7 separate regions of the Homo sapiens genome follow, and all the other regions are linked to region 3. The links come from fine-mapping of genetic effects on gene expression. A gene starts in region 3. Each other region holds a variant in brackets. All regions are shown on one strand. Distances are from middle to middle.

Region 1 (4,067 bases), 27 kb after region 3:
TCCCCAAAGCAGGGAGGGGCCCGCAGTGCTAAGTGAGAACTCAGGGGAAGGGCTGAAACGTGAGTGATGATGTGCTTACACCGATGTCCTTGGCACCTGCGTTGGTGAGATATTTTGGTGAGGTGGCAAGCTCAGAAGCCAGATTGGAAAGACTGGAGAAAATGAATGAGTAGTGAGGAGAAGAGACAGTAGCTTCCTTTAAGAAGCCAGAGAAAGCAGCCCACTCTCAAAAGACACTTAATCTAGGCTGGGTATGGTGGCTGACACCTGTAATCCCAGCATTTTGGGAGGCGAAGGCAGGTGGATCACCTGAGGTCAGGAGTATGAGACCAGCTTGGCTAACATGGAGAAACCCTATCTTTACTAAAAATACAAAAATTAGCTGGGCATGATGGTGGGCACCTGTAATCCCAGCTACTCAGGAGGCTGAGGCAGGAGAATCGCTTGAACCTGGGAGGCAGAGGTTGCAGTGAGCCAAGATAGTGCCATTGCATCCAGCTGGCGAGATAGCGCCACTGCACTCCAGCCTGGGCAACAGAGTGAGACTCTGTCTCAAAAAAGAACAAAAATCAACTGGGCGCGGTGGCGCCTGCCTGTGGTCTCAGCTGCTCTGGAGGCTGAGTGAGGTGGGAGGATTGATTGAGCCTGAAAGCTTGGGTGACAGAGTGAGACTCTGTCTCAAAAAGTAAATCAATAAATAAACAAATAGACTTAATCTAAAGGGAGAACAAACAAGGCAGCAGGGCACAGAGGGAGAGGGCATTATTTATGGCTCTCAGGATCTGAGTACCTTCAATATTGACTAAAAGAAAGAAAATTAGAACGTCTTAGAGCAAGCACTGTTACAGGTTGAGTACCCCTTATCTGAGATGTTTGGAACCAGAAATGTTTCAGATTTTTAATTTTTTTTTTATTTTGGAATATTTGCATATCCATAATGAGATATCTTGGGGATGGGACCCAAGTCTAGGCAATGGAATTCATTTATGTTTCATATACACCTTATACACATAGACCGAAGGTACTTTCGTACAATATTTTAAATAATTTTGTGCATGAAGCAAAGTTTGTGTGCACTGAGTTATTAGAGAGCAAAGGGTGGCTATTTCAGCCACCCATGGCTCTTCAACCAATCTGTGGTTGTTAGGCATCATATCATTTCTGACTCCAAATTTATATGCTGCCGATAAGCAATCTTTTTCTTGCATGTAGTCACACATAAGTACTTCACAGTAAGAAATACAACATACCATTAATACAGTGGAAAAGTTGTGTGTTCAGAGTAACTGAGCAGCACAGTAGCATGACCAGAATACCTGTGTCAGCTGCTAGACAACAGCAACAGCAAGCAACAGCAGCTTTCGGTCTCTACCTACAATGCTGTGTTTTGATTAAAAGGTTACTGTACTGTAACCCCCTTGGGGATGCAGAAATAAACTGTGTGTTGTGCGCCTGCATTTTGAATGCAGCCGCCCATGGGGCAGGTGTGAAATGTTCCACTTGTGGCCTCATGGTGGCACTCAAAAAGGCTGGAATTGTGGAGCATTTTGGATTTTCCAATGAGGGATGCTCAGCCTGCCCTAGAGAGAAGTCCCTGACGAGGCTGGTAGGAAGGCATGGAACAAGCCAACCACGCGCTCTGTATACTAGAGTTCAGGCCCATTTCCTGTTGGTTTGTCACATATAGAACAACAGATCAGTTGGGGACAGGCTTAAAATAGCCCTTGGAGACTGTTGTTAAGTCGTCCCCAAACCACTTCCCCTTTCATTGATTAAATGACATTTTAGGATAACCCACC[T/G]TGCCTGTGCCTCCTGGGGACTCTTGGCAGAAGAGTCAAGGATGGGTGTGCCATAGAGAATCATGGAGCCAGGGAATTACATAACGGGGAGACCATATACTCCAACCCCTTCTGTGTAGGGAGAAACTGAGGCCTCTGCCCTTCCCCCTTTTGATGCTGTGTGGGAAGGAAATTTTAAAGGACTTATTCTAAAAATCTGAGGGAAAACAAAAGAAAGTTGAATAACTGCGAAAATCGGATGCCACCCAAAGGGCCCTGTTTGTTTTTATTATTTGCGGCTCTCTGCTGTGAGCTCCCTTCTCAGCCATTTCTCTATTCTCAATCCGGGATCCCTTCTAGACAGATGCCTTTAAAATGTTTAGAATCTTCCTTCTTCCTTGAACAGGCTAGGTCTAGTATCATTAGCATGACCCTTACCAAGAAATCAACAGATCAGCTCCAAATGGAGTAGAAGGTTCTTGTCTTAAATGCTGACTTCTCCAGGTCCCTGCCACCCAGCCCAGTCAGGGCCCAGAAGAGCTTTCATCCAGTGCAGGAGTCATTTTCAGGAAGGACCCTCTCTCAGGGATGTGCCCAGGTGTCTGCACAGGTTGCTGTCACAGAGCTGGCTCCCTTTTGGGAGCAAGGTTTCAGGATGTTGCCTCTGACCCCAGCCCCAGGAATAGCACCAGGAGCACTAACTCAGATGTTGTTTTTTTCTAGGTTCCTTCTGACCAAGGGGACATGGCTCTGAAGATGATGAGACTGGTGACTCAGCAAGAATAGGATGGATGGGGCTGGAGATGAGCTGGTTTGGCCTTGGGGCACAGAGCTGAGCTGAGGCCGCTGAAGCTGTAGGAAGCGCCATTCTTCCCTGTATCTAACTGGGGCTGTGATCAAGAAGGTTCTGACCAGCTTCTGCAGAGGATAAAATCATTGTCTCTGGAGGCAATTTGGAAATTATTTCTGCTTCTTAAAAAAACCTAAGATTTTTTAAAAAATTGATTTGTTTTGATCAAAATAAAGGATGATAATAGATATTATTTTTTCTTATGACAGAAGCAAATGATGTGATTTATAGAAAAACTGGGAAATACAGGTACCCAAAGAGTAAATCAACATCTGTATACCCCCTTCCCAGGGGTAAGCACTGTTACCAATTTAGCATATGTCCTTGCAGAATTTTTTTTTCTATATATACATATATATTTTTTACCAAAATGAATCATTACTCTATGTTGTTTTACTATTTGTTTGACATATCAGTATATCTGAAACACCTTTTCATGTCAATAAATGTTCTTCTCTAACATTTTTAATGGCTGTGGAGCATTCTACTTTATGGTTGTACTCTAGTTTATTTACAAAATTCCCAGTTGTTTCCGACAAGTATAATAATTTCTAGTTTGTTGCTATTATACATAGTGCTCTGTTGATTCACCCTGATAGTTAGATTTTTTTGTACCTCCTTATTTTCTTAGAATAAATTCATAAAAGTGTAATTATTTAGTCAGAGGATTGCCACATTTCCTTAAAATCAAAATAATTAGCTCAGGACTTTTAACTTTTTATTCATAGCTCAAGATCTACATAAGGAGGTTTGATGCCGTGGCTCACACCTATAAACCCAGCACTTTGGGAGGTCGAGGCAGGAGGAATGCTTGAGCCCAGGAGTTCAACAACAGCCTGGGCAACATAGGGAGACCCCATTTCTACAAAAAAAATAAAAACATTAGCCGAGCATGGTGGCACACACCTGTAGTCCCAGCTACTCAGGAGGCTGAGGCAGGAGGATCACTTGAGCCAGGGAGGTTGATGTTGCAGTGAGCCATGATCAAGCCACTCACTCCAGCCTGGGTGACAGAGACCCCATCTCAAAAAGAAAAAAAAATCTGCATAGGGGATCTAACAGCTTCTAGGACTGTCTGAAAGAAATATCACCTCTTGTAGTTGCAGGGCTGAGATTTTATTTATTTATTTATTGAGACTCTGTGACCCAGGCTAGAGTGCAGTGGCACAATCATGCCTCAAATGATCCTCCTGCCCCAGCCTCCCAAGTAGCTAGTACCACAGGCAAGCACCATCACATCCAGCTAATTTTTAAAATTTTTTCGTAGAGTTGGAGTCTCACTATGTGGCCCAGGCTGGTCTCGAACTCCCAGGCTCTAGCAATCCACCTGCCTTGGGCTCCCAAAGTGCTGGGATTACAGGCATGAGTCACCAAGCCTGGCCAAAGGCTGAGATTTAAAAAAACAGCCAGGCACGGTGGCTCCAGCCTGTAATCCCAGC
Region 2 (4,067 bases), 68 kb after region 3:
AGGCTAAGGTGGGAGAATCACTTGAGCCGAAGAGATTGAGGCTGCAGTGAGCCTTGTTCATGCCACTGCACTCCAGCCCAGGCAACAGAGTGAGACCCTGTCTCCAAAAAAAAAAAAAAAGAAAAAGAAAAAGAAAAATATCTGTTAAAGGTAAAAGTGATATTCTTGGCCATGTGGCTCATGCCTGTAATCCTGGCACTTTGAAAGGCTGAGGCAAGTGAATCACTTGAGCCCAGGAGTTCAAGACAAGCCTAGGCAGCATGGTGAAACACTTCTCTACAAAAAACACAAAATTAGTCAGGCATGGTTGCGGGCACCTGTCGTCCCAGCTATTAGGGATGCTGAGGCAGGATGATTGCTTGAGCCTAGGAGGCAGAGGTTGCAGTGACCTGTGATGGCGCCACTGCAGTCCAACCTGGGCGACGAAAAGAACCTCTGTCTCAAAATTAAAAAAAAAAAAAAGTTGTAAAAAAGTGATATTCTGGCCGGGGGCGGTGGTTTATGCCTATAATCCCAGCACTTTGGGAGGCCAAGGCGGACGGATCACCTGAGGTCAGGAGTTGGAGAACAGCCTGGCTAACATAGTGAAACCCCGTCTCTACTAAAAATACAAAAATTAGCTGGGTGTGGTGGTGGGTGCCTGTAATCCCAGCTACTCCGGAGGCTGAGGCAGGAGAATCACTTGAACCCGGGAGGCAGAGGTTGCAGTGAGCCAAGATCGTGGCATTGCACTCCAGCCTGGGCGACAGCGTAAGACTCCATCTCAAAAAAAAAAAAAAAAAGGCGATATTCTTAGCTAGAAAATTCAAAATACACATTCAGTAGTACCCCCTTATCCACGGTTTCAGTTACCTGCGGTCAACTGTAGTCCAAAAATATTAAACTGAAAATTCCAGAAATAATTCATGTTTTCAGTTGCTTGCCATTCTGAGTGGCGTGATGAAATCTCACACCGTCTTGCTTCACCCCTCCCGGCCTGTGAATCCTCCGGCTGTTCAGTGTATCTGAACTGTAGATGCTACTTGCCCATTAGTCTCTTAGTAGCTGTTAGTTATCAGACCAATCCATGGTATTGCAGTGCTTGTGTTCAAGTAACCCTTATTTGACTCAATTGTTGTGTTTATTATTCGTTATTGTTGTTAATCGCTTCCTTAGTAAGCGCCTATTTTGTAAATTAAACTCGATCATAGATATGTAGGTAGGAAAAACATAGTATATAAAAGGTTTGGGCGTCGATCAGCGAGGGAGCAGCAAATGGCCGGCGGTTGGCGCCTCGCGGGGGGCGGGCGGCGCAGAGTAGGGGGCGGTGGCCAGGGCCGAGGCGTCGCAGCAGCTAGGACGGTTCTTCTGCCACTGCTGCTCCCTGGACACCGTCCCGCGCCTATCGGATTATATCTGCCCAAGATGTGCGTCTGATTTTATCGAGGAGCTTCCTGAAGAGACCAGGAGCACAGAAAACAGCTCTGCCCCTTCCACTGCCCCCACGGACCAGAGCCGGCCGCCGTTGGAGAACGCGGACCAGCACCTGTTCACGCTGCCGCAGGGCTACGGACAGTTTGCTTTCGGCATCTTTGACGACAGCTTCGAGATCCCCACGTTCTCTCCTGGGGCGCAGGCTGACGGCAGCAAGGACCCTGAGAGACCGTGGGAGACAGAGCATCAGTCCCGGCCCCGTACTGCGCCCGGCAGCCCCGCCTCCGCCTCCCCACGCGGCGGGCCACCGGCCGGCACGAAGGCCTCCCCACGCTAGAAGGGATCATCCAGCAGCTCGTCAACGGCATCATCACGCCCGCCACCATCCCCAGCCTGGGTCCTTGGGGAGTCCTGCACTCAAACCCTATGGATTACGCCTGAGTGGCCAACGGCCTGGACGCCTTCGCACAGCTCCTCAATCAGTTTGAAAACACGGGCCCCCCACCGGCAGATGAAGAGAAAATCCAGTACCTCCCCACCGTCCCCGTCACCGAGGAGCACGTAGGCTCCGGGCTCGAGTGCCCCGTGTGCAAGGACGACTACGCGCTGGGCGAGCAGCTGCCCCGCAACCACCTGTTCCACGATGGCTGCATAGTGCACCGGCTGGAGCAGCACGACAGCTGCCCCGTCTGCCGAAAAAGCCTCCCGGGACACAACACGGCCACGAACACCCCCGCCCCGGGCCCGACTGGGATGAACTGCTCCTCCTCGTCGTCCTCCCCCTCCTCCAGCTCGCCCAGTAAAGAGAACGCCACAAGTAACTCCTGAGCCCGCGTGGGCCGGCACCCACCACTGCCCGCTGCGCCTGAGGCTGCGGGGAAACCGCGG[G/GGACT]GACTTTCCCAACCACCCTCAGCCAGGGCCGCACGGCACCCACAGACTGGGTGCCCCAGAGGCGCCAGTCTTGGCTGGTCAGCGCTACAGGCCCCGCCTGTTCCAGGGCAGGATCCTGGACCGGCCCACCGGCTCCCTGGCTCGGGAAGGCGTGGGCCACATGGTCCCCTCTGGGGCGCCTTCAGCCTCCCCGTCTTTTGTCTAACCTCACCCTCTAAACGTTCAGCGGTGGAAAGATTTTTAGAATTTTAAATTATTACTGCTTTGAAATAAATGGAAGTTTTAGCTCACATGGCGGCCATGCATGATCTGTGGCAAGACGGGGCACCGCTGCTCCACCAGTGCTGCGAGCGCCGTCAGAATAGGCCGCGTGGGCTCCCAGCCTTCCCCTCGGCTGCCTCCAGGACCTGGAGTTTGGGGGCTCGGGACCATGAGAATGACCAGCAAAATTCAGGAACAAAACTGCTCCAACGGACTTTTTTTTTTTTTTTTTTTTTTTTTTTTTTTGAGGAAGTCTAGCTCTGTCGCCCAGGCTGGAGTACAGTGGCACAATCTCGGCGGCTCACTGCAACTTCCGCTTCCCGGGTTCAAGCGATTCTTCTGCCTCAGCCTCCTGAGTAGCTGGGATTACAGGCGTGTGCCACCACGCCTGGCTAATTTTTTGTGTTTTTAGTAGAGATGGGGTTTCACCATGTTGCCCAGGCTGGTCTCAAACTCCTGACCTCGTGATCCGCCCGCCTTGGCCTCCCAAAGTGCTGGGATTACAGGCGTGAGCCACCGCGCCCGGCCACCAACAGACTTTTTTAAAGGAAAAAATATGTGTGTCTTGAAAGCTATTTAAAATACACTACCTACAAAGATTAAAAAAAAAAAAGGTTTTGTACTATCTGTGATTTTAGGCATCCACTGGGGGTTTAGGAACATGTCCCCCATGGGTAAGGGGGAACTACTGGATTTACTGTATTTATGAAATCTGTATTGTGGTCAGCACTGGGATTGGCTCTGGATGAACACAAGGAATAAGCCCTCTGCACTCAAAGAAACTGCAACAAATGGAGGGAAACCTCCAAATAAACCAATAAGTGTGTCCTGACCAACAGGGGTGCATGCAAAGAAGGAAATGACGTGGGTACTGTGGTTGCGAATAATAGAAGGAAGCTTTATGTGGTGGAACCTATTTCAGAGGATGCTTAATAAAGGCTTCCATGTGGAGGTGATGTTTAGGTTCAGATCTGAAGGAGAAAAAGGAGCCTGCAGCCACAGCTTGTAGAAGAGAGTTCCAGACACAGGGAATGCCTATGGCCAGCGCTGAATAAGACAAGACAAGACAGAAATTGACTCCTGGAAGGGGATGTTTGGGGAGTGCAGGTCAGATTGTGGAGAGGGGCTGGGGGTAGCTTGCGCAGATAGAGTATAGCCGTTATTCCAAATGCATGGGGAATTGTGGAAATTCATCATTGTTTGCATTTTAAAAAGAGCTATCTGGCTGTATCATGGAGAATAAACTAGAGGAGAGCAAGTGAACAGGCTCTTGAAAGAGAAGAAGCTGGGGTGGTACCAGCGAGGATGGAAAGGGGTGAGGGGATTTAGGCCATTTTGAAGGAAAACAAATAGATAAATAAGACATGATGTTGGATTGGAGGTAAGGGATAAGAGGGAGCTATCACTGATGGCTTCCTGTTTTCTGGCTTGGAATTATCTACCAAGGTGACACAGACTGTAGGAGAAACAGGTTTTGACCTGTTAAATTTCAGATGTCTGGGTTT
Region 3 (4,067 bases):
GGCACCATCTTGGCTCACTGCAACCTCCACCTCCTGGGTTCAAGCGATTCTCATGCCTTAGCCTCCCGAGTAGTTAAGACCACAAGCAAGTGCCACCACACCCAGCTAATTTTTGTATTTTTGTAGAAATGGGGTTTCACTATGTTGGCCAGGCTGGTCTCAAACCCCCGACCTCAAGTAATCTGCCCACCTCGGCCTCCCAAAGTGCTGGGATTACAGGTGTGAGCCACCTTGCGCCCTGGGCTGTAGTGTTATTTTTGTGGCAAAAAAATTGAAACCCTAAAATTCTGACTGCAGTGGAAGGGTAAGTGTATTTCAAGCCCTAGTGATACAGACCAACTTGGAAGCTTCAGACAGGAAAAGTTTGCTAGATAGTTATTTATTTTTAACTAAGCATGTACTTTTATGTATCTCCCATATGGCATGGAACACCTGCTCACTGCAGCCTGGAGCTCCTGGGCTCAAGTGATCCTCCCACCTCAGCCTTCTGAGTAGCTTGGACAGCAGGCGCGTGTCACCACATCAGTTAATTTTTGTTATTTTTTGTAGAGAGGGGGTCTCAATATGTTGCCCAGGCATTATGGATTTTATGCATTCGGGACCATCCCATGCTTAAAGCATGACAGAACCCGGCGGCATATTTTTCTCTGCCGCAGCTTTCAGTGCAGGGGCACCTCACAGGCAGGGCGGGGTCAAGGCTCTGTCCAGACAATGGCTGCAGAGTAAAAAGCACTTCCATTTATGGGGGTCAAGGGCGAGGGGAGGGAGAAAGGAGCAGGGAAAGAGGAGAAGTGGCCACATGTACTTTGATTTGTTTTTTGCTTTTTGTTACATGTACTTTTGAAGCAGTATTTAGAAGTAGCCTCTCCTACAGCCCCTGCTGTAGCTTGTCTCCTAGCTGTGAGGTGAGTTATTCAGTACCCTCTAACGTAAAAATGACCTTCAGACAGACAGACAGACACACACACACACACACACACACACACAGAGGAAAACAGCTCTGTCATCCACTTTTTCTTCCTTTCCCGTCCCCAGACCCTCGATTCTCTCTTTAAAATGACTGCTGTGAAGATAACGTAACACAGAGTAATACTAATGACAAATTATCAAAAAAGAAAAAAAAAATAAAAATCTTTATTAGTGTTTTTTAAAATGACGTAAAAGACTATGGGAAAAAATGCCAACAATAGTTATGTATAACTTTTTTGTTCATATTTCCAAAACGTTTATAACATACATAACTTTAAAAGAAAAATAATTTAAAAAATACATATCTGAAAATGAAACCCCGCTGTTTGCCAACGACCAGCTGGCTTAATCTGACTTCGCAGATGTAGCAGTGTTGGAAAACGTCGGTTCTTTTGCTGAGGGAAGGAAGAGATGGGAGGGGTAGAAAGGGCGGTGGTTATTCCCTTTAGTATTTCGATCCGGTCACACAACCTAAATCCAACATCTGCATCAAATGTCTCCTTTCCGAAATACTCTCCCTAAAATGACAGAGAACCTGGCCAGGCGGACAGAACGGCCCCTGCGCATTTGCAGGGGTCCTGGTGGGCTTGCCGGGCAGAGGGCGTGCGGGTCTCAGCAAGCTGCCGGGTCCGCCCAGGCCCCGCCCCATGCCCATTCAGGCCCCGCCCCCGACCCGCAGGCCCCGCCCCCGACCCGCCCCGTCCGCCTCCGTCACGTGATGGGGCGCCGGGTCCAGCCTGTTGCTGATGCTGCCGTGCGGTACTTGTCATGGAGCTGGCACTGCGGCGCTCTCCCGTCCCGCGGTGGTTGCTGCTGCTGCCGCTGCTGCTGGGCCTGAACGCAGGTAGGTTCAAGCAAGAGGCGCACCAGCTGCCATGCCTCTTTTTTCTCCAGGCGTGAGAGTTTGTTACTGGGTTTGTGCTTTTGAAAACATGTCTCTTTTCCCCGGTTCTTACCTTGTGTAATTATATTGCTTTTGAATCTCACTCTTTTTTTTTTTTTTCCTTAAAAAATTCAAAGTGCTTTTTTTGTCCTTTTCTGGCTCTGGGTGGTCTGAGTGCTTCCGTTCTCTCCTACGCCTAGATAGAAGCTGTGTGCAGAAATGTATGATTTGGGGAAACTGCTGGTCAATGAGGTTTCCCCGATTCAAAGGCCATGATTGGCTGCTAAATGAGGATATAAGGTCGTTTTATTTTAAGCTGAAATCTGCGGTCAAAAGTACCCTTACATCCTACCACGAATGGGACATTTCATTGAGATAAGGCCCTTTCTTTTCTTGATCAAAACAAACAAGATAACATCTTCCCCCACAGCGATCTTTTTTGGCAAAAAACAGATTTGTGTTTAATAGGATGACTTGCAAATTGATTTTCAGCAAAACCTCTCCTAGTCTGAAGCAAGCACTGAGAATTGGAACTGGCCACAAGCTTGCCTTGTGACCTTAGGCAAGTTGTTGAACAGTTTTGTTTTCCTTTTCTAAAATGGGGATCATCTGGCCCTTAGGCGAGTGTCTGGGAGATTTTGTAAAATAAGTAGCTCTGCCAATTTTACCAGTAGTCACTGCCAGGCAAGGGAGAAGTGCCTGGGGTTAGGTCAAAAGGTACCTGCGCCTTATCTGTCATTCTCAAGGGAGCGCAGCCTTATCTGTTATTGTCAAGGACAATATAATCGTGTGTTACTTGTATATAGAACCTTATAGCTAAGTCTGTAATGTTTTAGTCATCTGTTTTGCTCCTCAGGACACTTTCTGGTTTTCTTAATCTTCATTGTTGTTTTGTTTTGAGTCAGGGTCTCACTATGTTGCCCAGGCTGGTCTGGAACTGCCTGACTCAAGTGATCTTCCTACTTCAGCATCCCAAGTAGCCCGGACTGCAGACACAGGCCACCACCCTGGCTCTTTCTTATTTACAAGACGTTGTCTCATTGTCTTCCTCTCTACTCCTGTCTCTTTAGCTGTTGGGACCAGTGTTCTTTTACTGACCAATGGGGCTTGAAATTTGAGAAGGGAGGAAATAGAAGGCAGAAAACTCCAGTCACCGAGGGGATCCCCCCCATCATCTTTTAACAACAGCCCCTCTACTTTTTTTTTTCCCAGAGTGGTTTTGGAGGAAAAAAAAAAAGATGCTATAACTTGGAAATTGTTACGTTAGCAAAAAGTGACAAAGAAAATGTATTTAGCCTACTCTTTTCTAAAACATATTTTGTGGATGCTAGAAAAGTTAAGTAAGGAAAATTGGAGTTAGGGGATTATAGGATACGTATATTAAACACACATACACAGATATATATCGTTCAGTTTAAAAAAATCATCTACATGAGTTAGGAAAATTGCCCTTTTTCATATTTGTTGTAGCTCTTTCCTTGCTGTTTGCCTTTTTATTTTTGATTTACAGAAATTTTGTTGTATAGAAATATAACAAGTTTCTGTTCTCACCTCCATCATTGTTTCTTTTGTACAGTCTCTGGGGTTTGCTTAGATTCTTTCCTCATCCAGACATTAGAAATATATTTAACTATATTTTTGTATTTTTTTAATGTTTAAAGTTTAAAATTTAATTGCTTGATCCTCATGGAACTTATTTCGTTTATAGTGTTGAGAGGACCTAAATTTCTCTTTTTTTCTCCAAAAAAGGTAATTGTTGCTCCATTACTGTATATTGAATATTCTCAGCCCCACTAATTTGTGATGCCTCTTCACTCATGTTTTTTGTTTGTTTGGTTGGTTGGTTTTTTGTTTTTTTGAGATAGGATCTCCCTCTGTCACCTAGGCTGGAGTGCACTGGTGTGATCACAGCTCACTGCAGCCTCAACCTACTGGGCTCAAGCGATTCTCCTACCTCTGTCTCCTGAGTAGCTGGGACCACAGGCATATGCCACAATGCCCAGCTAATTTTTGCATTTTTTGTAGAGATGGGGTGTTGCTATGTTGCTTAGACTGGTTTTGAACTCCTATGCACAAGCTATCAGCCTGTCTTGGCCTTCCAAAGTGTTGGGATTACAGGAGTGAGCCACCAAGCCTGGTGTCTTACTCATGTATTAAATACGATATAAAAACCAGTATATTGCATTCTGAGATTTTTACTTTTTTACTCAAAATA
Region 4 (4,067 bases), 110 kb before region 3:
TATGATACTGTGTAGTTTTTTGACACAACCATGAGATACAATAAGCAGCTTTGACTTAGTGTCCCAAAAAGTGGTTCTTGGTCTACAGCAGGGCAAACATATATGTGGCAAGTTCTGATCACATACTTTTAGACAGAAAGAATAAAAAATTCATATTGCATGGCTTTTGTAGCCTAAGAGCACAGAATCATACACGTGTGTTAGGAGAAACATTCATTCTCACGCATATAAACTGGCTCCTGGCAGAGTAGAGCAGTAAGTGGGATCAAAGGTGAATTCACCTTATTTTCAGTTGGTAGAGTATGGAAAAATGTATCACTTATTTGAAATACCTGAATGGAAACCCAGCCTCTACTACTGTAACTTAACACTTGTTCTTCCTGAGCCTCAAATTTTCTTTCTCTGTAAGAATGGGAATTAATGCCCACCTACGGGTTGCAAGTGCTTACAGGAGCTGGGCAAGCAACGAAGGTAAGAGTTGTAGAGACTTCGGTAAACTGGAGCACATGATTCCTGGGAAGCAGGCCTAGTGTAAACAATTTATTTTTCTAGAAAAGACAGAAGTTTAGAGTATATGAAATCTAATTTTTAAGTATTGGTTGGCAACTAATTGACTATCGTCTACCATAAGGTTATATGATAATTATTAGGGCAGGAGAGTGAATGCATCTTAATATGCATGGCAGAACTGTGTGTTTCCTTCCATCTGGATTTTCATAAAGCTTTCTGATTTATCAGTAACGATCTGAAAAATGTACTGTGGCATGTAACATCTTTTATTCATTTTATTAGGCATTAGAGGAAGAATATTCTGTAGTCCTGCTTTATTCTGCCATCTTTACCTGGAAATCCATTTTTATAAAATTTTTGTAATAAAAATTCACTTGATCACTTGCCTGCTTTCTTTTAAACAGTGCCAAGCGTAATGCCCCTTGATAATTTACATATATGTGAACGTGGCTGTGATAGCTGCTGATGTTCACACATAGGCCATCTTACATGTAATGATCCATGTTTGGACTTAAACAGCTTCACACATTTATTGTACAGTTAGGTGTCACATGCTTTTACTTTTTATTTTATAATCTGTATTTCTGTGAGGTAGACATTATTGGCTCCATGTTATATACATTGATAGCCCGGAGCTAGAGATTGAACCCAGGCCATCCTCCCCACTGCCTTTCATCATCAACACAACCACCACCAACAGTATTTTAAAAGTGTTAAATATTGGCAGACGTGTCATTGTTCTGAGCACTAGGACTAGGGCTTATGCGGCTGTCTGAGGAATTCCCTGTACAAGGAAACATCATATACCAAAAAGTTACTCATGGAAGGAGTTTGGAGATGATGAGCTAAAAGTATTACACATGGACTATTGTAAAAGAAAAAAAAGCAGGCACAATAAAATTTTAGAATGTACTTAAGAAGCAATTCGTGACTTGGGAAACCCCAAACCCAATGAGGATTTAGTGTTTCAATGACACAACATCAGAGGCAAGTATTCATAGAGTGCATACAGAAGCAAAATTAAGAAATGATTTGATTGGTTGCCTTTTTTGGCTTACTTTCTTGGAAAGTCCCCAGTCTCATGATCATGTTAGTTGGCTGCTTATGATTGGCTGAGGTTAAGTTTTGTATCTAACATAAGCATTTACCAAAAATGACCCAAGTTAAGTTTCATTTATGTTTACAGTTTAAGTAGGTTAGGGCTATTTTTAAGGCCTAGTTGGTTTGTTTGCTCAGGAATGTTTCAAGCCTAGTTTCCATTTTAATTTTGCTTTGACAGTTCCCCACTTTTAGTCACCCCGTCCGCAAGCTGAGAGTGTGA[C/T]CAAATGGCATAGCATTACTCTCAGTTACCACTATTGACATAGTCTAGGAAGAAGAGTCAGATGTTTATCAATAGCTGCCCTAGGGCTCAGAGTCACCCTCGGGAATGACATAGTCCATGCTGGTTTCCTCCAGTTGTCTGATCCTTACGGCAATCTTTTGACATATGAGTGACTACTGGAAAGCACTTAAACATCCTTGAAAGGACCAGCCTCTGTGAATAACACCTGTAATCTCAGAACTTTGGAGGCCAGAGTAGGGGAATTGCTTGAGCAGGAGTTCAAGACCAGCTAGACAATGTAACAAGACCCCATGTCTACAAAAAAAAAAAAATTTTTTTTTAATTAGCTGGGCAGGGCTGGGTATGGAGGCTTACACCTGTAATCCCAGAATTGTGGGAGGCCAAGGCAGGTGGATTGCTAGAGCTCAGGAGTTCGAGACCAACCTAAGCAACATATTGAAACCCCATCTCTACCAAAAATACAAAAAATTAGCCGGGCGTGGTGGCACACACCTCTGGTCCCAGCTGCTCGGGAGGCTGATGGAGGAGGGTCACTTGAGCCTGAGAGGCAGAGGTTGCAGTGAGCCGAGATTGCGCCACAGCACTCCATCCTGGGTGACAGACTGAGACCTCATCTCAAAAAAATACAAATTAGCTGGGTAGTGCTCACTACAGCAGCACATATACTAAAATTGGAACAATACAGAGAAGGTTAGCATGGCCCCTGAACAAGGATGACATGCAAATTCATGAAATGTTCCATATTTTTACATATAAAAGCAAGCTGAATCCTGATCACCTTGAGTACATGTCATCAGGGACCTCCTGAGGCTGTGTCCCGTGCCCATGCATGTCCTTAATCTTGGCAAAATAAACTTTCTAAATTGGAAAAAAAAAAATTAGCTGAGTGTGGTGATGCACACCTGTAGTCCCAGCTACTCAGGAGACGGAGGTGGGAGGATCACTTTTGTCCAGGAGTTCCAGGCTACAGTGAGGTAGCATTGCACCACTGTACTCCTGCCTGGGTCAAAGAGCACGACACTGTCGCTCAAAAATAAATTTTAAAAATTATTGAGAAAATACAATGCACTGTGTTGGGTAAGCCATTGTGTATGGGTACCCACTGTGTATGGGTAAACACAATAACTACAAGAAGAATAATAGCAAAGGATTGAAAACCCTGAGTAAAGATTCCCAGGAGCCAAGATTTAACCAACTGAATAAATCAAGGGAGGCAGTGCTAATGAGATGAAAACCTTGTGTTCTTTAGGAACTTTTACATTTTGGGCAACAATATCAAATATAACAAACACTTAATGTTTTGTTAACATAAAAACACCGTAAGCTTCTCCCTGCTGAGCAGCTGAAGTGTCAGTAACTCCTACTTTGGGGTACTGCTGAGGTGAAATTATTCATCTCATATTGTACTGCTTGAAGAAAATTCGTAAGTATCACTAAAACTTTTTTCAAGAGTTGCTGAAATACTAACAAGCAATTTTTTCAATTCAGAGGCTCCCAGCTGAGGAAAAAGAGCTCTTACAAAAGAGTGAAATCTGTAACCCTTGTATGATTGAGTCTGGAGATCACTCAGGAGGCTCATTTCTGAGGGCTCACTTTATGTACAAGTGACCTGAGGTTCAGAATTTGACTAACATTTAGAGTCATCTGGTCATTTTAGGTAGGACATAGCCAAAACATTCTGATCATTTAGGTGGAAAAACCTTTATATATTTGTCATACAAGATGAACAATCCGGCTGGGCGTGGTGGCTCATGCCTGTAATCCCAGCACTTTGGGAGGCCAAGGCGAGTGGATCACCTGAGGTTGTGAGTGTGAGACCAGCCTGGCCAACATGGTGAAACCCCATCTCTACTAAAAATACAAAAAAATTAGCTGGGCATGGTGGCAGTTGCCTGTAATCCCAGCTACTTGGGAGGCTGAAGCAGGAGAAATCGCTTGAATTTGGGAGGCAGAGGTTTCAGTGAGCCGAGATCATGCCATTGCACTCCAAGCTGGGCAACAAGAGCAAAACTCCATCTCACAAAAAAAAAAAAAAAAAAAGATGAACGATCCACAAGTTGATTAGGGCCTTTGGGAGATAATCAGGATTAAATAAGGTGGTCAGGGTGGGCCTCCCATTATCAGGCTGGTGAAAGGAGCCATGACCTTCAAACTGATACTAAATCTTGACCATGATTTAGGTAATGGCAATGGACTCTGGACCAATAAAGCCCTC
Region 5 (4,067 bases), 28 kb before region 3:
CTCATCCATAGGAGATAGTAAGTGCCTAAGAAGATAAAAAACAAAACACCAACGACCTAGAACTAACCCACCAGATCCCTTCATTAACTGATTCTTCCAGCCTGCTTTTGAGGAAAGATTTTTTTTTTTTTTTTTTTTGAGATGGAGTCTCGCTCTGTTACCCAGGCTGGAGTGCAGTGGTGTGATCTCAGCTAACTGCAAGCTCTGCCTCCCGGGTTCACGCCATTCTCCTGCCTCAGCCTCCTGAGTAGCTGGGACTACAGGCACCCGCCACCATGCCCCGCTAATTTTTTTTTTTGTATTTTTACTAGAGACGGGGTTTCACTGTGTTAGCCAGGATGGTCTCAATCTCCTGATCTCGTGATCCACCCACCTTGGCCTCCCAAAGTGCTGGGATTACAGGTGGGAGCCACCAAGCCCAGCCTTGAGGAAAGGTTTCTATAAAGATTTTAAGTCTTCCAAGGCATCAATCCAGATTAAATCAAATTCCCTTGTATTTTATCTATGTTACTATATTAACACTACCAATTATTACCTTAAAAAATGGTCTTACATTCCATATAGTACATCAAAAAAAAGAAAGAATGCACTTTAACAAGATTTTCAACAAAATGTTGGTGGGTGAAAAAGAAACATGTAATTCTGTGATCCCTCTGACTGAGTCAAGCTTTTACTGAACTATGAAAAACCTCACATGCCAATATAAAGACTCATACAGATATTAAGTAAGTAAATTCCACGGATAATATTTATGAATTACCTGTGGTTACCTGATAATGCAGAAGAAATCATACTAGATCATAACAACCAGAAGTAATTCACAAATATGTAAAATAGATTCCCATGATGAAAATAATCAAATCTTCTTGCTGAGAACTATTTATTATTTTCTTTCAAAGTTTAGAATCATGAAGGAATGAATACCCAAATAAGTTGGTCTAAACTAATTAGAAAAAAGTAACTAAAAAAATTAAACTGGCTGGGCATAGTGGCTCACACCTGTAATCCCAACACTTTGGGAAGCCAAGATGGGGGGATTGCTTGAGCCAAGGAGTTTGAGACCAACCTGGGCAACATAGCAAGATCCTGTCGCTATTTAAAAACAAAAAATTAATATATTTTTTTTAAAAAAGTAAAAATTAAGCTCATCATTCTCCTACTCTATTCTTCCCAAGTATAAGGCAAATAACACAGGGAGACTTCCCAGTGATACTATTAAAGAGTTGACATTTCGATTAATGTTTTCATTTTCTACTTTCTGGCATTTTTATTTAGTAAAAAAACAAATCTGTATTATCCATACAAGTAGTATTAAATATGACTTTAGTTTTAATAATACACTGACAACTTACTTTTAAATAAACATCCTTACCTTGTAGTCAGAGACATCAGGAGAGTAACTGGATGTTAGCTCCAAAAGCTAAAAAAGAAGAAAAAACCCACAAATACATAAGCCCTCTTATCCTCTCCCATTCCCACAGCTCCTCCATCATGCCATGTTGGCGTGTCCACCCCGACCAGTCTGGGAGCCCTACC[A/G]GGAACCCGTAACAACACTGGGGTTCCAGTGGGAAGGGCTTTTACAAACACATTTAACCTGATTTTCTAAGTAAGTTTATTTGGAAGGGGAATGAACCTTTTTTGCTGTGACTGTTCTTTTGAAATATACCTTAAATGCAATCTTTTCTCCAACTTGAGGGGCAGCTGCTAACAGTGGTAACAGACTATAGTCCTTCTTGGGTGTCTCTACTGGATTCTGAAAAACAGTGTTAGTCATGTGACATCATCACTGGTGAGAAAATGTGAATCCATGACATGAACTCCACACACATTCTAAGGGGAAAGGGAGGAGATAACTTACAAAAAATAATACTTACCTGGATAATAGTAGATGAATTTTTTACCACGTCATTTAATTGCTGTTGCCTCTGGTTGTCAGTGCTTCTATTTACAACACAGGAAACAGGATGCCCTCGTCCTCGACCTCTCCCCCGCATGCCCCGTCCCTTAGCTCCCTTCCAAGAAAAAAGGTTCTCTTCTCTACCCCATCCTCTTCCTAAACTAGCAGGGAGAGACACACTGGGAGAAGCACCAGGAGCCTGTCCACCACCATTTGAGCCAGAACGCCTCCATCCAGCAGCACCTGCAGTCTGTGATGACAGCCCTGGGCCTGGACGACCTCTTCCTGCAAAAAGGCCTACTGTCTTTAAGAAACCCGCAGCACACTCCGGGGTGCTCGATGACATCAAGCATTGGTCGTCTGACTCTGCACTAGAGTCTGAACTGGAAGATGTTGTTCCAGAGGTCTTGCCCTTGCTGGGGGTAAGGCTAAAGCCAAGTTTTATAGCCAGTTTGTCTGCAGTTGTATTTTTGGTAGAGGGTTCTTCCTTTGATAACTCAGTTGGTAATTTCTCTGAGGAATTTCTGGCCTCCAAAGTGACTTTGCTGGGACCATCACTGATAGATTCATCACAAGATTCAGACTCCGAGGAGGAACTGGGACTCTCTTTTGAGCAAACGCTTACACTACCTTTCCTTTTGGCTTTAACAAGGCTGTTTCTAGCAGAACCTTTTGGAGAACTACATCTCTGATTGGCCCAGTCTTTCACTGCCTGTACTTTCGGAGACTTGGGATTCTTAGCCTTTTTTTTATATTCACATTTCTCCTTTTTCTTTGGTGATTTTCTTTTGGCCTCTTCGTTATCATCACCCACTGTGCCACAGGTTGCTTTATTTTTTCTCTTGTTTTTTTTGCTGACAGTCTGATCTGTGACAGCTTTTGGTTCCAGATCCAAGACCTTCTCATTATTGTTATTGTTCTCTCGACTCTTCCAATGCTTCTTTGAATATTTGCAATCTGGTTCAGTTTCTTCACCCTCCTCTAACTGAAATGCCCGCTTCTTTGCTTTTCTAAGAGATAAATTAATGTCACCATTACTGATGACTACAGAATTCTCAGCAACTCCTCTCTCTTCTAATTTAACTCTGTCAAAAGAACAAGAGAGAAAGCTAGAGTGAGCAATTTATAAACACATCTCCAGGACATAGTTATATACTGAGATGACTCTACAAAATGTAACTACCATCAGTCAATGAAAAAATGTCACATCACTTAAAGACAAAAGACTCTTTCTGGCAAAATGGCCTATGTAGCATTACTCACAGTCAACTTTCAAATGGCTAGTTTTATTTATTGAATAGCTACTGCATCCTAAACATTTTTAATACGTTTTTCTCTAATCTAAACACCAACACAAAGTAGGTATTTTTAATTTTACAGATCGCAAAATTACAGCTCAGACAAGTTACTTGCCCCAAATCTAGAGCTGATAAGTAGCAGAAACGCAATTCAAACTTCAGTTTGTCTAACTTCAAACTCACAATCTTTCTACAATATGCATGTCACCTACCCTAAAAGGTGATAATGCTGATTATCCATTTTGTTTCAGAATGTGGGCTTCTTTCTTTAATAAGATTTTACTCCTGTTTTAATTTAGGTGAATACTAAACAATTTATGTTCTCTAGGGTAGTGACAGCCATCTGTACAATTCCACAACACTCTGTGAAGCTTAATTTTATGTATCAATTTGTCCGGGCTATTGGACGTCCAGATATCTGGTTAAAATTACGCTGGCTCTTTCCATACCACCACAGTGGTGCACATGAATGTCTTGGCTGATGCTCTCAAGAGCATCAACAAAGCTGAAAAGCAAGGTAAATGCCAGGTTCTTATTAGGCCGAGCTCCAAAGTAACTGTCCGTTTTCTTTTTTTTATTTTTATTTTTCTTTTCTTTTTTTTTTTTTGAGACGGAGTCCCAACTCCGTCACCCAGGCCAAAGTGCACTGGTGCATTTCTCAGTTCACTACAACCTCTCCCTCCCAGGTTCAAGAGATTCTCGTGCCTCAGCCTCCCAAATAGCTGGAATTACAGGCGCCTGCCACTATGCCTCGCTAATTTTTGTATTTTTAGTAGAGATGGGGTTTTGCCATGTTGGCCAGGCTGATCTTGAACTCCTGGCCTCAAGTGCTCAAGTGATCTGCCTACCTTGGCCTCTCAAAGTGCTGAGAT
Region 6 (4,067 bases), 21 kb after region 3:
AGCATTTCTGTCACCCCAAGGAGATCCCACGTGTCTGCTTGCAGACAGTTCTCATTCCCACTCCCAGCCACAGGCAACCACTCATCTGCCTTCTGTCTCTCTAGATTTTCCTTTTCTGAACATTTTATATAAATACAATCGCACAATAGTTAGTCTTTTGCACTGGCTTCTGTCACATAGCATGATGTTTTTGAAGTTTAGAAACCAGCTTCCATACACCAAATTACAACATCAGTTCAAGACTGAATTTAGTCATCTTTCAGCCAACCAAGAAGCATATAAAGGCTGCAGGATACCCTAGGTTCCACTTTCTAGATGATTCTCTTTGGCCGTTCTGGAGAATCCCAATGGCCCCCAAGTCTATAGAATGTATAATCAATACTATTAGGTTGGTGCAAAAGTAACTGTGGTTTTTGACAGGTTTCAAGAATTATTAACTCACAACTAATGAAGCATTATTTCCCTTCCCACCCAGTTCCCTACCAACCCCTTATTTTGAACCAATTTTGACAAATCTATTTTTTCCCTTTTTTTTTTTAAGAGATAAGGTTTCACTCTGTTGCCCAGGCCAGAGTGCCATTGAATTTGAGAAATTCTGCCATTACTTTTAATGGCAAAAACCGCAGTTACTTGTGCACCAACCTAATAATAAAGCCTCTCCACTTTCAATGTGTTTCTGACTTCCTTCCTCCCGCTGGGGGTGAATCAAGGTGACGCTTTTCCTTTTCCAGCTGAATCTGAAACCCTCCCTCTTGCTGTGCAGCATCCCCAGCAGCTTGGTAAAGATGTCCTCATGGCCAGGCGTGGTGGCTCACACCTGTAATCCCACCACTTGGGAGGCTGAGGCGGGTGGATCATGAGGACAAGAGATCGAGACCATCCTGGCCAACATGGTGAAACCCTGTCTCTACTAAAAATACAAAAATGAGCTGGGCATGGTGGCGGGTGCCTGTAGTTCCAGCTACTCGGGAGGCTGAGGCAGGAAAATCGCTTGAACCCAGGAGGCGGAGGTTTCAGTGAGCCGAGATCGTGCCACTGCACTCCAGCCTGGAGACAGAGAGAGATTCTGTCTCAAAAAAAAAAAAAAAAGATGTCCTCTTGGCCTTACTTCCAGCCCTTTGACTCACTATCTACCAGTTTGGTTTTAGTTTGTCTTTGTCAGCGCCACGTGAGACACCTACAACGAGATGCCTTAAGCCAGCTCATGAATGGCCCCATCAGAAAGAAGCTCAAAATTATTCCTGAGGATCAATCCTGGGGAGGTACTTATATGACCTAATTAAGTGCCGTTTGTACAGTTATGGGGAGAAAAGAGGTGCAAATTCAGAGACCTGAATTTGTAGGGTGGGTTTTGTTGTTGGTGATGATAGGTTATAGGTAAACAATATTACTATCCACGTTTTGTAGGTGAGCAAATAGATACAGAGACAGTAAATGACTTGTCAGGGCTGGATGCAGTGGCTCACGCCTATAATCCCACCACTGTGGGAGACTGAGTTGAGAGGATTGCTTGAGGCCACAATTAAGCAACATAGTAAAGCCCCATCTCTTTAAAAAAATAGAAAAATTAGCTGGGCATGGTGGCATGTGGCATATAGTTCTAACTACTTGGGAGGCTGAGGTGGGAGGATTGCTTGAACCCAGGAGTTTGAGGGTACAGTGAGCTATGATT[A/G]TGCCACTGCTCTCCAGCCTGGGCAGCAGAGAGAAACCCTGTTTCTTAAAAAGGGGAAAAAAAAGACATCAAAATTGATTCAAAATAAGGAGTTGGTAGGGAGCTGAGTGGGGAGGGAAATAATGTGTAATTGGTTGTGAGTTAATAATTGTTGAAGCCTGGTATGGGTACATCGGAGCATTGTATGCTTCTCCTTTCTATCCATTTGAAATTTTCCATAATAAAAAATTAAGATAAAAAAGCTACATCGAAGGCCACAGTTGGTTGCAGATGAGATTTCGCGCCAAAGGTCCTTGCAGGATGTCAGAGACACCCAGGTGCTCGGGCAGATTTTGACCAGCTCTCTCTTGCTGACCTCCCCAGGCATCCTGATGCTGGATATGGCCAGGCATTACTGCGTTCTGGTCTCAAGGCCATGGTGAGGAAATAATGAAATCCTTAGAGACCAGGGCCAGGTAGAAATCTTGGTTAAGTTCCTACTTTAGTCCTATAGGGAGGCCTTGAGCAAGCAGAGATCTCAGGTTTCTGAAGGGAAAATACTCCAAACCTAAGAGGGTTTTGTTTCATGTGTGTTCAAGATACCCCAAGGATATGGGGTCAGTGGTCCTGCGGCTGCTGCTGGGAGCCTACGATTTGCTGCTGCTGGGAGCTTTCTCAGGGGACATGGGCCCTCCTCTCCCAACCTGCAGTCACCAGAGGTCTCATTCCATCCCTGGTTTTTTCATTACTCCTGAGTGCTGGGAGAATTTTAGAAATGAAGAAAAATTAGCTCAAATGAAAAGAGCTGGGTGTGGCCGGGTGTGGTGGCTCACGCCTGTAATCCCAGCATTTTGGGATGCCAAGGTGGGCGGATCACCTGAGGTCGGGAGTTCGAGACCAGCCTGACCAACATGGAGAAACCCTGTCTCTACTAAAAATACAAAATTAGCTGGGTGAGGTGGCACATGCCTGTAATCCCAGCTACTTGGGAGGCTGAGGTGGGGGAATCGCTTGAACCCGAGAGGCAGAGATTGCGGTGAGCCAAGATTGTGCCATTGCACTCCAGCCTGGGCAATAAGAGTGAAACTCTGTCTAAAAAAAAAAAAAAAAAAAAGAGCTGGGCGTGGTGGTGTGCATCTGTAGTCTCAGCTACTTGGGAGGCTGAGGTGGGAGGATCGCTTAAGCCTGGGAGGTAGAGGCTGCAGTGAGCTGAGATTGTGCCCCCGCTCTCCAGCCTGGGTGACAGGGTGAGACTCTGTCTCAAATAAGTAAATAAATAAATAAAAATTAAATTTTTTTAAAAGAAGACTTCTTATCTCCCAAGGTAATGAAGAAGAAAATGGGATGTTGCTTGTCAGATGCCTCCTTGGCAGTGACTAGCAAATAATGGTGGCTGCCACTCTTATTGCTGTCATTCAGTGTTAGGATAATGCTGATGGGCAGGAGCTAGCAAGAGTACTAGCTCCTCTCTTGCCTGGGGCTTGTTATTCATTTGGCTTTCCTGAGGGCCAGCTCTGAATTGGTTTAGGTTTGATCTGGTTTATTATAAGGTAGGCCTACCTGTTCAGAACTTGAAACTTGGCCCTGGTGTTACTCAAAAAAACAGGAAAACTGACATTGGCCCAAAGCACAATTTATTCCCTGAGTGTACCAGCCTAATGAGTATTTCCTGGGCCTCTCCCTCCCTGTTTCCTTGGACAGTAGCCTATTCCAGGTGTCAATTCCTCATTAAAAATGGTGCCTGCTGTCATCACAAGCTCTCAAGAGAATGGACCACATGTGCTATTTATGTGTGCCTTACACCTGACCAGTCGGCACAAATTTCTGGGCTGGTTCATCCCTGTTTGTGAAGCATCTGTGCATTCAGTCGTTGTTCGGTGCTGGAGCCCAAGATGCTCTGGGCTGAAAGGTACCTCCTGTTTTGGCAGATTCCAAGCTACTCCCTCTTTCTCCTTCCCCATGTGCAGGCCAGGCTACCAACGTCTTTGTGAACATGGAGGAGGACTTCATGAAGCCAGTCATTAGCATTGTGGACGAGTTGCTGGAGGCAGGGATCAACGTGACGGTGTATAATGGACAGCTGGATCTCATCGTAGATACCATGGGTAGGAATTGACTCTGAGAGGCACCTAGAGGCAGTTTTATGGGTTCAACTGGAAGGGAACTGGCCTTGGACATGTCAGTCTTGCGGTGGGTGATGTTGAAATGCCAGGTGGAAGGCCATTTCCCATTACATCCGTCTACCCCGACCTTGATTATTCAAAGGGTGGGGAGCTGCACGTGGCTGTGACCCCTCAGAAGCCTGAGCCTACCTGGGTTTGGGGGCCCTTAGGTATGATTAAAGAAAAGAACACCACCTGTCTCTACCACAAAACTTAGACATTTTCCTGGTTATTGGGCAAATGCGCTGTTTAAT
Region 7 (4,067 bases), 740 kb before region 3:
ACAGGTACATGTGCAGGTTTGTTATATAGGTAAAATTATGTTACAGGAATTTGTTGTACAGATTATTTTATCACCCAGGTACTAAGACTAGTACCCAATAGTTATTTTTTCTGATCCTTTTCTTCCTCCCACCCTCCACCCTCAAGTAGGTCCCGGTGTCTGTTGTTCCCCTCTTTGTGTCCATAAGTTCTCATCATTTAGCTGCTACTAATAAGTGAGAACATGCAGTATTTGGTTTTCTGTTCCTGCATTAGTCTGCTAAGGATAATAATCTTCAGCTCCATCCATGTTCCCACAAAAGACATCATCTCATTCTTTTTTATGGCTGCATAGTATTCCATGGTATATATGTACCACATTTTCTTTATCCAATCTGTCATTCATGGGCATTTAGGTTGATTCCATATAATTACTATTGTGACAGGTGTTGCAATGAACATTCACATACATGTGTCTTTATGGTAGACTGATTTACATTCCTCTGGGTATGTACCCAGTATTGGGATTGCTGCGTTGAATGGTAGTCCTGTTTTTAGCTCCTTGAGGAATCACCACACTGCTTTCCATAATGGTTGAATTAATTTACAGTCCCACCAAGAGTGTCTAAGTGTTCCCTCTTCTCTGCAACCTTGCCAGGATCTGTTATTTTTTTACTTTTTATTAACAGCCATTCTGACTGGTATGAGATGGTATCTCACAGTGGTTTTCATTTGCATTTCTCTAATGTTCGGTGATATTTGACTTTTTTTCATATGCCTGTCAGCCACATGTATGTCTTCTTTTGCAGTGTCTGTTCATGTCCATTGCCCACTTTTTAATGTTTGTTGTTGTTGTTGTTTCTTATAAACTTGTTTAAGTTCCTTACAGATGCTGGATATTAGACCTTTGCGAGATGCATAGGTGGCAAATATTTTCTCCCATGCTGTAGATTGTCTGTTTATTCTGTTCATAGTTTCTTTTGCTGTGCAGAAGCTTTTACATTTGATTAGATCCCATTTGTCAACTTTTGCTTGCGTTGCAATTACTTTTGGCATCTTCATCAGGCCATTTTTGTCCATTCCTATGTCCACAATGGTATTGCCTAGGTTGTCTTCCAGAGTTTTTATAGTTTTGGGTTTTACATTTAATTCTTTAATCTATCTTTAGTTGATTTTTGTACATGGTGTAAGGAAAGGGTCCCGTTTCAATCTTCTGCATATGGCTAGCCTGTTACCCCAGCACCATTTCTTGAAAAGGGAGTCCTTTCCTCACTGACGGTTTTTGTCAGCTTTGTCAAAGATCAGATGGTTGTAGGTGTGCAGCCTTATTTCTAGGCTCCTTATTCTGTTCCATTGGCCTATGTGTCTATTTTTGTGCCAGTACCATGCTATTTTGGTTACCGCAGCCCTGTATTATAGTTTGAAGTTGGCTAAGGTGATGACTCCAGCTTTGTTCTTTCTGCTTAGGATTGCTGTAGCTATTCAGACTCTTTTTTGGTTCCATATGAATTTTGAAATCATTTTTTCTAATTCTGTGAAAAATGTCTTTGGTAGTTGGATAAAAATAGCACTGAATCTGCAAATCACTTTAGGCAGTATGGCCATTTTAATCATATTGATTCTTCCTATCCATGATCCATGAGCATGGAATGTTTTTCCATTTATTTGTGTCATCTCTGATTTCTTTTTCTTTTCTTTTCTTTTCTTTCTTTCTTTCTTTTTTTTGAGATGGAGTCTCACTCTGTCACCCAGGCTGGAGTGCAGTGGCATGATCTTGGCTCACTGCAACCTCTGCCTCCCAGGTTCAAGCGATTCTTCTGCCCCAGCCTCCTGAGTAGCTGGGACTACAGGCATGTGCGACCACCCCCGGCTACTTTTTTGTATTTTTAGTAGAGACGTGGTTTCACCATGTTAGCCAGGATGGTCTCGAACTCCTGACCTCATGATCTGCCTGCCTCGGCCTCCTAAAGTACTGGGATTACAGGAGTGAGCCACCGCGCCTGGCCCTGATTTCTTTGAACAATGCTTTGTAGTTCTCATTGTAGATATCTTTCACCTCCCTAGTTAGCTGTATTCCTAGAT[AT/A]TTTATTCTTTTCGTGGCAATTGTGAATGGGATTGCATTCCTGATTTGAATCTTGGCTTGTCTGTTGTTGGTGTATAGGAATACTAGTGGTTTTTGAACATAATTTTGTATCCTGAAACTTTGCCGAAGTTGTTTATTAGCTGAAGGAGTTTTTAGGCCAAGACTATGGGGTTTTCTAGATACGGAATCAGGTGGTCTGCAAACAAGGGTAGTTTGACTTCCTCTCCTCCTATTTGGATGCCCTTTATTTCTTTCTGTTGCCTGATTGCTCTGGCCAGGACTTCCAATACTATTAGGTTGGTGCAAAAGTAACTGTGGCTTTTACATTTACTATAATGGCAAAAACTGCAATTACTTTTGCACCAACCTAATACATTGACTATGAGGAGTGAGAGAGGGCATCCTTGACTTGTGCCAGTTTTCAAGGGAAATGCTTCCAGCTTTTGCCCTTTAAGTATGATGTTCTCTGTGGGTTTGTCATGGATGGCTCTTACTATTTTGAGCTATGTTCCTTCACTGAGAGTTTTCAACATGAACTGATGTTGAATTTTATTGAAAGCCATTTCTGCATCTATTGAGATAATCATGTTGTTTTTGTCTTTAGTTCTGTTTATGTGATGAATACCATTTATTAATTTACATATGTCGAGCCAACCTTGCATACCAGGGATGAAGCCTACTTGATTGTTGTGGGTTAGCTTTTTAATATGCTGCTGGATTTGGTTTGCAAGTATTCTATTAAGGACGTTTGCATCAATGTTCATAAAGGATATTGGCCTGAAGTTTTTGTTGTTGTTGTGTCTCTACCAAGTTTTAGTATCAGGATGATGCTGGCCTCATAGAATGAGGTGGGGAAGAATTAGTTCCCTCTTCAATTTTTGGAACAGTTTCAGTAGGAATTGTACCAGCTCTAAACACCCACATCTTTTACATCTCTTTGTACATCTGGTAGAATTCTGCTGTGAATTCATCTAGTCCTGCCCTTTCTTTAATCGGTAGGCTATTTATTACTGATTCAATTTTGGAGCTCATTATTGGTCTGTTCAGGGAATCAATTTCTTCCTGGTTCAGTCTTGGGAGGGTGTATATGTCAGGAATTTATCCATCTCTTCTAGGTTTTCTAGTTTCTGTGCATACAGGTATTCATGGTAGTTTCCGATAGTTATTTTTATTTCTCTGGGGTCAGTGGTAACATCCTCTTTGTCATTTCTAATTGTGTTTATTTGGATCTTCTCTCTTTTCTTCTTCATTAGTCTAGCTAGTAGCTTATATATCATTAATTTTTATAACAAACCAACTCCTGGATCTTTTGGAATGGTTTTTTTTTGTGTCTCAATTTCTTTCAGTTCAGCTCTGATTTTGGTTATTTCTTGTCTTCTGCTAGCTTTGGTGTTGGCTTTCTCTTGCTTCTCTAATTCGTTCTGTTGTGATGTTAGGTTGTTAATTTGAAATCTTTCTAACTTTTTGATGTGGGAGTTTAGTGCTATAAATTTCCCACTGAAGGCTGATTGAACTGTGTCCCAGAGATTCTGGTATGTTTTATCATTGTTCTCATTAGTTTCAAAGAACTTCTTGGTATCTGCCTTAATTTCATTACTTACCCAAAAGTCATACAGGAGCATGTTGTTTAATTTCCATGTAATTGCATGACTTTGAGCAATTTTTGTAGTCTTGACTTCTATTTTTACTGTGCTGTGGTCCAAGAGTATGTTTGATATGATTTCAGTTCTTTTGCATATGCTCATTGTTTTATGTCTAATTGTGTGGTCGATTTTAAAGTATGTGCCATGTGGTAATGAGGAGAATGTATATTCTGTTGTTGGGGACAGAGTTCTGTTGAGGTCTATCAGATCCATTTGGTCCAATGTTGAGTTCAGGTCCTGAACATTTTTGTCAATTTTCTGCCTCAATGATCTGTCCTCAAAAATACTGTCAGTGGAGTGTTGGAGTTTCCCACTATTATTGTGTGCGAATCTAAGTCTCTTTGTAGACTAAGTCTCTAAGAA

Direction of the effects. Positions count from the first base shown, and alleles are read on the strand shown. Sizes are in standard deviations (SD) of each study's normalised expression. Not every link is listed here.
For the expression in monocytes after Pam3CSK4 of the gene that starts at base 1,709 in region 3, G is the high allele of the variant in region 2 and GGACT is the other (moderate effect, 0.49 SD a copy in Quach 2016).

Evidence for each region. PIP is the estimated chance that this variant, and not a neighbour inherited with it, causes the effect.
Region 1: its variant is fine-mapped to the expression of SCPEP1 in whole blood (TOPMed, PIP above 0.99). The same link has a PIP of 0.9 or more in monocytes.
Region 2: its variant is fine-mapped to the expression of SCPEP1 in monocytes after Pam3CSK4 (Quach 2016, PIP 0.95). The same link has a PIP of 0.9 or more in monocytes and monocytes after LPS.
Region 4: its variant is fine-mapped to the expression of SCPEP1 in whole blood (INTERVAL, PIP above 0.99).
Region 5: its variant is fine-mapped to the expression of SCPEP1 in whole blood (TOPMed, PIP above 0.99).
Region 6: its variant is fine-mapped to the expression of SCPEP1 in blood mononuclear cells (TOPMed, PIP 0.98).
Region 7: its variant is fine-mapped to the expression of SCPEP1 in spleen (GTEx, PIP 0.92).

What each region holds. Positions count from the first base shown.
Region 1 is chr17:57,003,672-57,007,738 of GRCh38, forward strand. SCPEP1 (serine carboxypeptidase 1) reads left to right here. Exons shown (of 13, transcript NM_021626.3): 13 at 2,502-3,097. The coding sequence ends at 2,564. Among named protein-coding and RNA genes, the nearest start is that of SCPEP1, 28 kb to the left of the region's middle. The variant T/G (reference allele first, on the strand shown) is at 1,800.
Region 2 is chr17:57,044,205-57,048,271 of GRCh38, forward strand. It overlaps the pseudogene RNF126P1. Among named protein-coding and RNA genes, the nearest start is that of AKAP1-DT, 39 kb to the right of the region's middle. RefSeq lists enhancers at 1,844-2,771, 2,009-2,058. The variant G/GGACT (reference allele first, on the strand shown) is at 2,302.
Region 3 is chr17:56,976,423-56,980,489 of GRCh38, forward strand. SCPEP1 (serine carboxypeptidase 1) reads left to right here and starts at 1,709. Exons shown (of 13, transcript NM_021626.3): 1 at 1,709-1,813. The coding sequence starts at 1,738. RefSeq lists a silencer at 1,592-1,651.
Region 4 is chr17:56,868,677-56,872,743 of GRCh38, forward strand. It overlaps DGKE (diacylglycerol kinase epsilon), which reads left to right. Exons shown (of 12, transcript NM_003647.3): 12 at 1-891. The region is part of intron 1 of LOC124904037 (a long non-coding RNA gene); the gene reads right to left. It also overlaps the pseudogene RNU6-1158P. Among named protein-coding and RNA genes, the nearest start is that of MIR3614, 21 kb to the right of the region's middle. The variant C/T (reference allele first, on the strand shown) is at 1,832.
Region 5 is chr17:56,948,015-56,952,081 of GRCh38, forward strand. COIL (coilin) reads right to left here. Exons shown (of 7, transcript NM_004645.3): 2 at 1,875-2,982; 3 at 1,667-1,753; 4 at 1,373-1,420. It also overlaps the pseudogene LOC100419768. Among named protein-coding and RNA genes, the nearest start is that of COIL, 11 kb to the right of the region's middle. The variant A/G (reference allele first, on the strand shown) is at 1,537.
Region 6 is chr17:56,997,237-57,001,303 of GRCh38, forward strand. It overlaps SCPEP1 (serine carboxypeptidase 1), which reads left to right. Exons shown (of 13, transcript NM_021626.3): 10 at 1,149-1,262; 11 at 3,619-3,756. Among named protein-coding and RNA genes, the nearest start is that of SCPEP1, 21 kb to the left of the region's middle. The variant A/G (reference allele first, on the strand shown) is at 1,673.
Region 7 is chr17:56,234,373-56,238,439 of GRCh38, forward strand. The region is part of intron 3 of ANKFN1 (ankyrin repeat and fibronectin type III domain containing 1); the gene reads left to right. Among named protein-coding and RNA genes, the nearest start is that of ANKFN1, 83 kb to the left of the region's middle. The variant AT/A (reference allele first, on the strand shown) is at 2,061.